Homo sapiens: one gene and its partner. The protein of the gene in region 1 purifies or fractionates together with the protein of each later gene. This does not show direct contact. Each region holds a gene or a part of one and is shown on either strand. Other genes may lie near its edges.

Evidence for each region.
Region 2: the proteins of ANXA4 (region 1) and HADH fractionate together in Homo sapiens (co-fractionation; one large-scale study listed by BioGRID). This does not show direct contact.

Annotation. Positions count from the first base shown.
Region 1 is NC_000002.12:69,748,634-69,752,133, forward strand, and holds part of ANXA4 (annexin A4), read left to right. Parts: intron 1-3,500. UniProt on the Homo sapiens protein: Calcium/phospholipid-binding protein which promotes membrane fusion and is involved in exocytosis.
Region 2 is NC_000004.12:107,996,389-107,999,888, forward strand, and holds part of HADH (hydroxyacyl-coenzyme A dehydrogenase, mitochondrial isoform 2 precursor), read left to right. Parts: intron 1-3,500. UniProt on the Homo sapiens protein: Mitochondrial fatty acid beta-oxidation enzyme that catalyzes the third step of the beta-oxidation cycle for medium and short-chain 3-hydroxy fatty acyl-CoAs (C4 to C10).

The DNA.
Region 1 (3,500 bases):
ATTATACATGAAGGAAAATCACAGAGTGAATTTACTTAATATTCCAGTGGGGTGCAGATGCTTGTATACCCTACTTCTTTTTTTTTTTTTTTTTAATACAGGGTCTCACTCTGTTGCACAAGGCTGGAGTGTAGTGGCATGATCGTGGCTCACTGCACCCTCGACCTCCCAAGCTCAGGGGATCCTCCCATCTCAGCCTCCTGGGTAGCTGGGACTATAGGTGCATGCCACCACACCTGGCTAATTTTCTGTATTTTTTTGTAGAGACGAAGTTTTGCCATGTTGCCCAGGCTGGTTTCCAACTCCTGGGCTCAAGTGATCCACCTGCCTCAGCCTCCCCAAGTACTGGGATTACATGCGTGCACCACTGTGCCTGGCCTACACCCTACTTTTTAGAGGAAAGAGAGTTGAGGAAGTGTGGATGTTTTAGGGAGGTGGCAACTGATGTTTGGGGGAATTCAGCTGGCTCGAAGAACATACAATGGCCCGGGACAGAGCCTCTTGGGCCCACAGAACAGACAATGGTTTGTGACAAAAGTCCATCCAGGTGTGTTGACAGACTTTTGTCTTTCCTACTACAATATGAATTCAGCTAATGAAAACTCAGGGAAGGGACTAGGGGTAATGGTTTCCTTTTTTGGTAGGTCCAGACTTTAGTCAGATAAGGGAACTTCAGAGAACAACTTTGGGAGAGACAGAGGATTGAGAGACAGGAGGTAGGAGGGGGGATGTCTTTGGTTCAGCATGTCAAAGCACCATATTTTGGGATATCAGTTTCTGAGCCCCAGCAGACATACACATTGCAGCCTTGTTTGTAGTAGCAAAATAGTAGAAACAACCTAAACATCAGTAAAGATCTGGTTAAATTATGGAACATCTATGCAGAGTAATACTATGTAGCTATTAAAAAATGGTGCAGGTTGATAGGAACTGATATAGAATGACAGTGAAGATATTTTTTAAAAAGTAAAGTACAGCTGTGTGTGGTATGCTACCATTTTGGTGTATAAAAATGATGGAGGCTCTCACACCTGTAATCCCAGCACTTTGGGAGGCTGAGGCAGGCGGATCACTTGAGGTCAGAAGTTTGAGACCAGCCTAGCCAACATGGTAAAACCCCGTCTCTTACTAAAAAAAAAAAAATAGCTAGGTGTGGTAGTGCACGCACATAATCCCAGCTTCTAGGGAGGCTGAGGCAGAAGAATTGCTTGAACACAGGACGGAGGTTGCAGTGAGCCGAGATCATGCCCCTACACTCCAGCCTGGGTGACAGAGCGAGACTCTATCTCAAAAAAAAAAAAGAAAAAGATGGAGGCTGTCTATATTCTCATATGCTTATTAGTGCATTAAATACTTCTAGGAGGATACACAGGAAAATTATAAGAGTGGTTGCCTGGGGAGGGGGAAGGAAAGTCTTACAGACTTGTTGTTATGTACTTATTTGTACTATTTGAATTTGTTATGTTTATGTATTACCAATTAATTAAAAAAAAATAGTGTTACAGATATCACCTGCCCATTGAACATTGTTTGTGAAGAAGGAGAATTAAATAGAAATGAAGAATGTATAATTATCAGATTTCCAACCTTAAAATTAACATTCGATCATATACTTCCTTATATGTGTACAAAGGACTAGCATGCAAGTATCCTTCAGTTTCCAATGAGATGAAGCAGCCACCGCTCATTCTTGCCGTGTGTTTCACTTGGGTAGCTGGTTCCAAAAGAATGTAAAGTGCCTCTAGTTGGATGGTGGAGAAAGTTCTGCTTTTGGTTTTGTTTTGTTTTTGTTTTTCTAAGACAGGGTCTCACTCTGTCACCCTGGCTGGAGTGCAGTGGCACAACAATGGCACACTGCAGCCTCAAACTCCTGGGCGCAGGTGACCCTTCCACCTTAGCCTCCCAGGTGGCTGGAACTATAGGCACGCGCTGCCACACCCAGCTAATTTTTTGTATTTTTTGTAGAGACAGAGTTTTACCACGTTTCCCAGGCTGGTTTCAAACTCCTGGAGTCAAGCCATCTGCCTGCTTCAGCCTCCCAAAGTGCTGGGATGACAAGCATGAGCCATGGTGCCTGACCTAGCTCTGTTTTTAAATGGTCTGATTGGTTCCAGTGTGTCTTTAGCTGCAGAAGCAGAGAGAGGAGGTAGATGGGATAAATCAGGGCCTGTAGACTAGGTAGACCTGCTAGGGCAGGGGCCTTTGTCAGAGAAATGTCTCCCAGTGATATCAATGGCCATGGGCACTGAGGGGCCTGACCTTGGCTTTGGAGCCTGGACCCCTATCTTCAGCCAGACTATGTCTTAGTCTGTGAGGGACCTGCCTCTCTCTGCTGGAGATGTTGATAGCTAATGTTCACCAAGTGTCTTCTATGATCCTGACCCTGTGCCAGACATCTGGTATGATATTTTATTAAATTTTCACCCATATTAGGTGGGTACTAGTATTATCATTGCCAATGTAAATGAGGAAACTGAGGCACAAAGGGGTTGAGTAATTTGCTCAAAGTTGCACACTGACGAGCTTCACAGCCAGGATTTGAACTTGTCAGTATGACTCTATATCCTATGCTTTACCACTCTGTGTAATAGGTTAAAAGTGGGGGAATCAGGCCAGCCGCAGTGGCTCATGCTTGTAATCCCAGGCTAAGCAGGTGGATTGCCTGAGCTCAGGGGTTCGAGACCAGCCTGGGCGAAACCCTTTCTCTACCAAAGATATAAAACAATTGGCCAGGCATGGTGGCACACTCCTGTAGTCCCAGCTACTGGAGAGGCTGAGGTGGGAGAATCGCTTGGGCCTTGGAGGCAGAGGTTGCAGTGAGCCAAGATCGTGCCACTGAACTCCAACCTGGATGACAGAGTGAGACCCTGTCTCAAAAAAAAAAAAAAAAAAAAATACAAAGTGGGGAAATGAGCAGAAAAAGACAGGGCTGGGAGATTAAGCTATGGGGATGAATTCTTTCAGAGGGGAAGGAGGAGAGCCTAAGTCCAAACCACTTGTCCAAGATGAACTTGATATTGATTTAGGTCATTCTGAGTATCTAGGGGATCCAGGTGAGGAGTGGAGAGCAGAGGCTGAATCAGGACCATGTGCTGCATCATGACTCTGGTGGCCCATCCTTCTGGGATCAAGACTTAGGGCAGCATCTAAAGGCAGGGGAGGCAGCTCAGAACCTTGGCGTAGGGTCTTCAAGAGGTAGGCAGGAGGTCAGTGGCCTCTGCCAAATGGGCAAAGGTGCATTTATTTATTATATATGTAAGTGGCGGGCACTAGAGATTCAAGAATGAAACACACTGACTCAGGGAGATAAGTAAATCAATAATTAAAAAATCATAGGACTGTATGATCAGTATAATAATTTGATATATATGTGCAGACTGCCATGGAGTAACAGAAGAGGTGCACCTAACTCTATCATTAGTGGTCACAGAAGGCTTCCTGGAGGAGGAAGGTTTATATTGAGCCAGGGCTGGAGAAGAAGGGCTTATGCACAGTTGTGG
Region 2 (3,500 bases), on another chromosome or scaffold:
ACCTTTTCAGAATTTGTGGGAGGTGAGAAGTCTGGGAGAGGTTATCTGGGTTATTATGAAACCTACACACTTACTGAATTAAAAAAAAACTATGTAACACAATTCTAGTCTAAAAATGGGCGCACACTTTCTTTGCCTTTTAGAAATACTTTTTGAAATGTAAAATTCGAAGTCTAATAAAGGAGTCTGTCCAATTAATTTAACTGTTTGAAGAAAAAAACCAGTCCAGGCATGGTGGCTTACGCCTGTAATCCCATCACTTTGGGAGGCTGAGGCGAGCAGATCACTTGAAGTCAGGAGTTCGAGACTAGCCTGGCCAACAAAGTTAAACCCTGTCTCTACTAAAAATACAAAAATTAGCTGAGCATGGTGACACATGCCTGCAGTCCCAGCTATTCAGGAGACTGAGGTGGAAGAATTGCTTGAACCCAGGAGGCGGAGGATGCAGTGAGCCAAGATCACACCACTACACTGCAGCCTGGCCAACAGAGCAAGACTCCTTCTCAAAAAAAAAAAAAAAAAGAACAAACCAGCTGGTTGTGGTGGTGGTGGTTGACATCCTCAACAGAACAGCTTTTGCTAATTGTTGAAGTCAGGGAAGACAACTTGTGCTGATGGCAGAGTTCAAGACATTACACAACCAGAGACAATCATAAACCCAGAAATGCCAGCCCTGAGAGATGCAACTGATGTATGACTTTTTTCCTCTCTGGATCAAACCATGACAACCGTAAAAGGCAGGCCTTGCTGTTAAGGCGCTGCAGCCTCTGAAGCACAGTTGGCCTCAGGGAGCTCTGACTCAGTCTACTTATTCTGGGGATCTGAAGAAAGTCAGAAATCATGTGTGGTAGATAGTTTGCATAACTTTGGGATTTTCCAGAGAGAGGATGAAAACGGTGGCCCTCCTTGTAATGTCTAGGCACATGGGACATCCAGTGGAACTGTTGAGGGAGGAGATGGGAGGGAGACCAGTCACCAGACCAGTTGATGTAGGTCTCATAGACTCACCACTCAAGTTGTGCTTCGGAGAAAGCTGCTTCAAATCTTCTTGATACATTTACAAAGATAAATAAATCCAGTGTGCTTCTGCTTGGCATGTTTACTTGGTCCTGTGGTCAGAGTGCTCTGGGGCTTTGACAAATGTGCTAGTCACTTAGCCTATTTTTACAACTCTGAAGCAGCCGTGTCTAAAAATATTTCCTCTCTGGCTGAGCCTGCCTTCCACCAGGCCTAGAAAAGTCATGGAGCTGAGGACATAGCCTTCAAATATTTTTTTTTCCATTGCAGACTGCTTGTCCTCAAGGTCTTACCAGCATGTAGGTCACTGTAATATAAAACATGAGTTCTCAATGGATTGATTTAAATTGTGGTCACTCAAACTGCCAGGAAGAGTCCTCCTCATTTGTTGTAAAAATAACAGATGTCTATGAAAGGAGAAGAAGAAGGCCTTTCTTTTTTTGCAGTTCATTTCTCCACTGCCTTCTCCATCCCAGAAAGTTGGCGGTAACTTGGGTGTTACTGAATTACTCAGGAGAATGAATTGTACTTGTTTCTCTGTAGTTATTTTCTAAATAAGAGGTTACGTTATCAGGAGAGGCCATCAGCTACAGCAGTGGAAAGAGCCACCAGGTCTCATCTTGACTTTACCAACAAATGTCTTTATTCAGTCAACATTCCCTGAGGGCCAGCCACAGCCAGGCAGGGTCTAGGTTCTCAGTGTACAAAGATGAATGACATTTGGTCAGGAGCCTACAGTAGAGGAGTTCAGATTACTATAACACAGTTTGGTAGGTGCTGTGGTACACAGATGCAGGGATGTTACAGGGCATATGGGGGACATCTAGCTTAGGGCTGAGAGGATCTTGGGGAGTAGGCTTACTAACTGGAAATGATTGTTTTGTTTTGTTTTGAGACAGAGTCTCTCTCTATCACCCAGGCTAGAGTGCAGAGGCGTGATCTTGGCTCACTGCAGTGTCCACCTCCCAGGTTCAAGCAATTCTTCTGCCTCAGCCTCCTGAGGAGCTGGCATTGCAGGCGTGCACCACCATGCCTGGCTAATTTTTGTATTTTTAGTAGAGACAGGGTTTCACCATGTTGGTCAGGCTGGTCTCTAACTCCCGACCTCATGATCTGCCCGCCTTAGCCTCCCAAAGTCCTGGGATTGCAAGTGTGAGCTACCGCGCCCGGCTGATTTTTAGGCTTAGTTAATAGGTGAAGTTGGGGAGAAGGTGAGGCCAAGAGAAGGGCTGGAGTTGAGAGGCAGATGTAGGGAGCTACTGGCCTTGTGGTGGTGTTAAGACTGTCATGCATGAGGCAATAGTTGTGTTCTTTTTGTTTTTTTGTTTTTTTTTCTTAGTAATAGCCATCCTAATGGGTATGAGATCAGAGGTTTTTAACATTATACTGTGATGGACATTAGAGATTTCATGAATCTCCTTCATGGTTCCCGAAAGGTTGGTAAAGATTCCTTCTCTGACCTTTGTTGTACATATTGGTCTTCAATATGCATTCTTATGGAAAAAGGTGTTCATGGCTAAAACATTTGAGAGCCGCCACACTGAATGATCTCTGGGTTGTCTTCCTCCTCTCAAAATTGATGATCCTGATTATCTGTAGCTAATAAGCCTGAACAATAAATGCTTTCGCCAATCTCTTAAAGTAGTTGAGAAGCTAGGTGTGTTAGTTTCCCTTCTGTGATAGAGAAGAAACCTGTGTTGGAGAGCAGTGAGCTTATGTGTCTGTGGCCATCTCTGACCTGATTCACACATGTGCCCCTCACAGACAGGCACAGACACAGGGTTGGCATGCCTCTAGCCTTACAGCCTCTTGGATGAAAGGTATAAGACACATTCACATGTTGGAGTGAATTAAGCACACATCCATTTTGAAATCACAGGGCTGGATACCACTTAAAGAATATTGATCTTGCATTGGGCAACGCATAGCAACTGCCCTACATTTCCCCTTTTACCTAGCGTCACAACCACCAGTACTAGAAAGCAGTTAATCTGCTCACCAAAATAACAGAGAGAGACTTTAGTGGCATTTTTTCCACTTGGTAATTGACTAGACTCTGGCTATTAGCTCCTTTTTTTTCCTTACTATCCTTTTCAAACTAATAACGTGACTTCTCATAATTTTAAAGTAACTTGATGCTTACACAAAGTTTATCATAAAGGTTTCTAGCAACAAAACCAGTCATGACTTCTTGAGAACTTATTTCTAAAATAATTTACAAATTGAGACTTATGAAAAAATAGCTCTGTCATTCAAGTGTTCATTTCATGAGTATGAAATATCTCCCTTGTGCTAGACATCAGGCCAGGTAAAAAGTAAGATGTGATTGCTGCTCTTGAGAAACCTACTGTCTAGTGGAAGAAATACAGGTATGAACAACTAATTGTAATGAAGGCACAGACAGCCTACCTGTCATATCTGGGATTTGATCTGAAACAGATGAAAGTTATAATAGTTTACATACCTTACCTTAAAGTATGGTT